Linked DNA regions of Homo sapiens: region 1 is linked to region 2. Evidence: fine-mapped expression QTL. A gene starts in region 2. The other region holds a variant in brackets. All regions are shown on one strand. Distances are from middle to middle.

Region 1 (2,909 bases), 50 kb before region 2:
CGGATGTCATTCTTCCTTTATGTTTAGGGGGTAGTCCTCAAGCAAATGTCTGCAGATGAGCTACTCCCTGGGGCTCCTGCCAGGACCCAGCAGGCTTGATCTAGCCTAGTCTCTCTGGATTCTCCCATTTCTTTTTGTTTTTTTCTCATTTGAGACAAGGTCTCGCTCTGTTGTCCAGGCTGGAGTGCAGTGGTGTAATCACAGCTTACTACGGCCTCAATTTCTTGGGCTCTAAGGATCTTCCTGCCTCAGCCTCCAGAGTAGCCGACTATAGGGAATGCACTACAATGCCAGGTAAATTTTTTTTTTTTTTTGAGACAGAGTCTCACTCTGTCCACCCAGGTTGAAGTGCAATGGTGTGATCTCAGCTCACTACAACCTCTGCCTCCTGGGTTCAAGTGATTCTCCTGCCTCAGCATCCTGTGTAGCTGGGATTACAGGAATGTGCCACCATGCCTGGCTAATTTTTGTATTTTTAGTAGAGATGGGGTTTCACCATGTTGGCCAGGCTGGGTCTCGAACTCCTGACCTCAGGTGATCTGCCCGCCTCACCTCCCAAAGTGCTGGGATTACAGCCGTGAGCCACCACGCCTGGCCAAATTTTTTAGTAGAGACAGGGGTCTCGCTGTTGGCTAGGCTAGTCTTGAACTCCTGAGCTCAAGTGATCCTCTCACCTCAGCTTCCCAAAGTCCTTGGATTACAGGCGTGAGCCATAGTGCCTAGTCGATTCTCTCTTTTCTAAACCTCAACGCAGGAGGTTGGAAAAGGAGTGGGTGGAGACCCCTGATGCAAGGTAAGCTCTAGCTTCTGGACATGACACCATAATTCTCAGAAACTCTCTTATGGATTCTCTTCCCTCACACCACCAACCAACGGGCACAGGGTCCCCAGAGACCAGAGCCAGGAGCCCCTTTCAGCCTGGAGGCACCCTGAGGGGAGGCACTGGTCTTGTGACTCTCTGGGTTGTCCCCATCCTTCTCTCTGGCCCCCGCCGAGGGGCACCAGGAATTAGCACACACCCTTCTTCCCTCCTGGGACCTGGGTGAAGGACTGCATTCTTCGCACCACACCTTCAGTGGACTTCACTGCACCTGCAACCAACCAAGATCCCTTTGCCTTTCAGGTGTCTGGGCCTCCTGCCTGGATTTCGGGAACCTCCCTTCCCATGTCCTTACGAGTCCCTGCAAACTAGTGTATGCTCAGGGTTTCCTGCACACAAATCTCTACGTAAGGTTACATGAACTTTCACTGGCTGATAAGGCCAGACCTCTGAGCCACAGGGCAGAATCAAGCAGAAGAAAACAAGTTGGTACCAGGAAGACATTTCCAGACCATTCCAGAGCTGGCTGACTCTTAATGTGGAAACAAGTTTTGGCTACAGACATTCAGGTTTAAGGCACATACCACAAATTACAAGAAGCCCTGTCACTGACAGGGAACTGGCTTTGTTCTCGTGGTTTCTGCAAGGAAGATGGAAGGAATGACTTTCTGGCCCTTTTTTTTTGTTTTTTCTAAAAAGGAGTGAGTTTGGCAGTAACAAAGCTCGTGACACACTCACCAGATGCACAGGCTACCTTCTCAGGCACGCCTCCCTTTCTCTCCTCAGCGAGGACACGGTGCTTCA[C/A]CCACCCAGTCGCCCTCACCAGAAATGTGTATGCAGCAAACAGACTTGTATGCCTCTGTCTGGCAATGACTGTAAGAAAAGAAAATATGCCTCCAAATAAAAATATACAATTACATGACGAAATGAAGCCAAGTCTTAGCCACAGGCAAAGGGGAATGATTGCATGAGTCAGAAAAATGAAACATCTATTTTAGCAGCAAGAGGCTGTGAGGGATGGGGTAGAAAAGGCATCCTGAGAGAGTTCTAGACCGACCCAGGTCCTGTGGCACACTATACGGGTCAGGAGGGGTGGAAGACAGGCCTAAGCTCTAGGACGGTGAATCTCGGGGCTATTTGTGGATTTGTTAGAAACAGACATTCTTTTGGCCTTTTCCTGGCACTGGTGTTGCCGGCAGGTGGGCAGAAGTGAGCCACCAGTCACTGTTCAGTCATTGCCACCACAGATCTTCAGCAGAATCTTCCGGTAATCCCCTGAAGTATCTCCCTGGCCACAGAAACAAGGAAGACATCCGTTAAGGGAGGGACAGTCACTTTCAGCCTTCTGGGTCCTGATATTCAGCCCTGAGCACCCTTATAGGGAGAAAGCCCCACCCTGGGGAATTTTCTCCCACTGCAGGTCCTGCAGCAGGCGTCACAGACCTTAAAAAATGCAGTTCAGCCTTCTCCAGGCCCCCATCAGAAGACGGAAAGCAGCACTCACCCCAGCTATCCACATCAAATGAATACCCACAAAAAAAAATTATAATCATCCTAAAAACCACTTCCCAGGGCTAACCAATATTGCTGTTTTCCCAGTGCATTTATGCTGCCTTAAATTGGGGTTACCAATGTAACGCAACACAGTGTCCTGCTCAGGAAATGCAATCTCCTCACACATGACTGTCCAGTGGAAGGCTCAGACTGCCCAGGTCCCAGGGATCTCTCCTCTGTCTGAGGCCACTACACTTACTCTAAGAGTGCAGGCTCGGCTTGGCTCATTTCTAATCATTTCCTTCCACCCTAAGCAACTTGAGGGCAAGGCATGTGGCTTCTTCCAGATGTCCATAGCTTGCTGGCATGCAGGAGATACTCTGTAATGAATTATTAACTCTCTTTTTTTTTTTGAGACGAAGTCTCACTCTGTCACCAAGACTGAAGTGGAATGGCGTGATCCCAGCTCACTGCAACCTCTGTCTCCCGGGTTCAAGCAATTCTCCTGCCGCAGCCTACCTAATTAGCTGGGATTACAGGCAAGCCCAGCTAATTTTGTATTTTTAGTAGAGACAGGGTTTTACCTTGTTGGCCA
Region 2 (2,909 bases):
TCCTGCTGGGAGCAGGCACCCGGATGGCTCCCAGGAGGGTGGAGAATGCTAGGCCAGACAGGGGAGGGAGGGCATTCCAGTAAGACAGAGAGCATGAGCTTAGCATGAGCTAAGCCAGAAAGACGGTTCAGGAGAAGTGCATTTCAACTTTAGCTGAACCTTCCACTGCTACTATTTATTGACCCTTACACCTGATTATTTATGACCCAGGCCTGCCTCACACACTTTATGGCTAATGTGGGTGACACCCATCTGGGATACACAAGTGTGGTGCAGCAGTCACCACCTGTTCTGACTGGTCCGTACCTGAGCTCTGTATTGTTATTAAATAAATGAATGCACTGAATCTCACAAGCCTGTGAGGCAGGGATTACTATTACCCCCATTTTACAGATGAAAAACCAAAGCACAGACAATAGTCAAAGAAAAGATAGCAAGGTATGCAGGAGCCTGAAGTAGTGGGCACCCAATGCCAGGGCAACAAACTGCCCTGGCACCTCACCTGGCCTCTCTTATCAGGGAACACCTTGCAGCACAAAGAATGCCTTGAGGAAAGGGGCCCTGTTAATCCCCTGGAATCCCCAACAATTGACTGCCGCATAAAAGGAATGAGGAAAGCAATGAGAGCCAGTGAAGGGTGAGCATACCAGGCCCTGCCCTGCAAACCTAGTCCCTGTTGCGTGGGCAGGGCAGGGCAGGGCAGGGCAGGGGCTCGGCCTCACAGCTCCACTCCATGCCCAGCGCAGAGAACAGAGGGGAGAGCTACCACAAACGCCGAATCTCTACAGAGAGGTCAAGGATTGGAGGGCAGAGACAGAAATGCCCCGGGCTGACTGTTTCCAGCTTGGGCTAGCACTGGCTGGCTTAACTTTTCCCCTCCAAAGTCTCTAGGTAACAAACTTCGCGTGTCTCCTTTAAACCAACAGACCATTTTACCTAAGTCTTAAGGGCCTGGCCTGCACCCATGGGAGATACAAGTCCAGGAATCCCTTCCTGAAACTGGGGATCAAGGTTGGGGAAGGGGCGAAGGCACGCACAGCACCTGGGATGGCTCCCGCATTCCCTCAAACACTGGGGAGAGTTCCTTACAAATAAACTGCAATGGTAGCAGCTCCCAGGAATGTGCGTGCTCCCAGTTTCGGAGGAAAGTTCCTGAAGATAGCCTTCTCTGCTTAATCTCCCCAAGCCTCGCCTAGAAGGGCGCGCGCACCCTGGAGGGCTCCGCAGGGCTGCGGGGCCGGGCCTCCGGCACCCCTCCCGCCACCCGTTGCCTCCTGCGCCCAGGGTCACGGCCCCTGGCCCTACCCAGGCCCAGACTGAGACCCCGACCCCTGAGCCCGGGGGGACGGCGAGTGCACCCCGACCACACATGAGGGAGCAGCCCCAGACGCCGAGGCTGATCTAGGGGGCTGCCAGGCCGACACGGCCCGCCCGCGACCCGCCGACGCCCTCCCCTGCCCCCCACCCCCACGCCTGTAGTGCAACCAGGAAGCCGCAGGGCCGCGCTGGGCTGGGCGCCAGGCAGCCCCGGGCCTCACCCGCGGCGCCGCGGTGCACTGCCGCCGCCTGGTCCCAGGCCCCCAGCCGGCTCGGGACCCTCACTCACCTGGCCACGGGGACTCCGGACGCGAGGGGCGAAATGGGACGTGGGCGGGAGTGGCTCTCTCCGCGGGCGTCCCGGGCGCGGCGCCTGGGTTCTGCCTAGGGGCTGGGTCCCACTCCCGCTCGCGGGGCCCGCGGGGCACTCGGGGCACTGGGGAGCCGCGGGCGCAGCAGCCGTCAGCGCCGGGCGGAAAACTCCGCGGGCGCGGCTGCCCCAGGTGCCAGAGGCAGTGCAAGGGAGGGGCGGGGCCTGAGCGCGGCCCCGCCCCCAAGATGAGGACTGGGCACGGCGGGCCCGCGAGGAGCAGCAGCCTTCCGGCTGCGGAGCTGCTCCAGGAAGTCTCGGGCTCCGGAGGTCCCTCTGCCGCCCCTAACCCCTGCGGCGCCCAGTGCCGCGCAGAGCCGCATTCGCCCTCCTGCAGGGGTGGGCATTTCCTAAGTCCTCTCCAGCCCCGTGTGCGTCGGTTAGTGACTCTCTTTAAGGTCGAGAAAACTTTTTACACTGAAAAGGTCAAACGCATTTCCTTTATAGCAACACTCGGTGGTGGTGGAGGGGGGAAGGTCACGCACAGTATGTGAGGAAGGGAGCGGTCAGTGACTATCGTGGAGAAACCTGACAAACCACCCAGCCGTCAAGGTGACCTCGACAGGGGTAAATCATACTGATTGCATGCACCGCTTGTGGTCTTCCTCCCAAGAACACCTAACCCCACTGTAATCATGAGGAAAACATCACAAATCAATTGAGGCCCTTGCCATATACATGACCAGTACTCCTGAAAACTAGCAAGGTCATCAAAAACAAGGAAAGTCTAGGACACTGTCACAGCCAAGAGGAACCCACGGAGATATAAAAATGACTTAAGATGTTAATAATAGGAAAAGCCCGGGTTTATGAGAATTCCCTGTATTCACACTTTTTCTGTAAATCTAAAGATGTTCTAAAAATAAAGCATATTTTTAAAAGGTCACCCAGGTAATATATGCATATATGGTAGGTATACAATTTTTTTTTTTAATGAGTGGTGGCTGACGCCTGTAATCTCAGCACTTTGGAAGGCCAAGACAGGAGGATGGCTTGAAGACAGGGCTTCCAGACTAGCCTGGGCAACATAGTGAGACCCAGTCTCTAAAAAACTAAAAATAAAAAATTCAAAAAATGAGTAAAAATTGAGATTCACTCTTCCCTCCACTCCCCCAGCCCACTCTTAGGTGTGTCCTTCCAAATATCTCTCTTTAACACTGTGTGTGTGTGTTTACATAAACGTATTGTTTACAAAACGATATTGCAGTACTTTTCTGCAACA

What was found. PIP is the estimated chance that this variant, and not a neighbour inherited with it, causes the effect.
Region 1: its variant is fine-mapped to the expression of ANXA11 in whole blood (INTERVAL, PIP 0.94).

What each region holds. Positions count from the first base shown.
Region 1 is chr10:80,153,805-80,156,713 of GRCh38, forward strand. ANXA11 (annexin A11) reads right to left here. Exons shown (of 16, transcript NM_145868.2): 16 at 1-2,108. The coding sequence ends at 2,049. Among named protein-coding and RNA genes, the nearest start is that of PLAC9, 23 kb to the left of the region's middle. The variant C/A (reference allele first, on the strand shown) is at 1,625.
Region 2 is chr10:80,203,737-80,206,645 of GRCh38, forward strand. ANXA11 (annexin A11) reads right to left here and starts at 1,801. Exons shown (of 16, transcript NM_145868.2): 1 at 1,607-1,801. RefSeq lists enhancers at 80-159, 2,799-2,909 and a silencer at 1,145-2,024.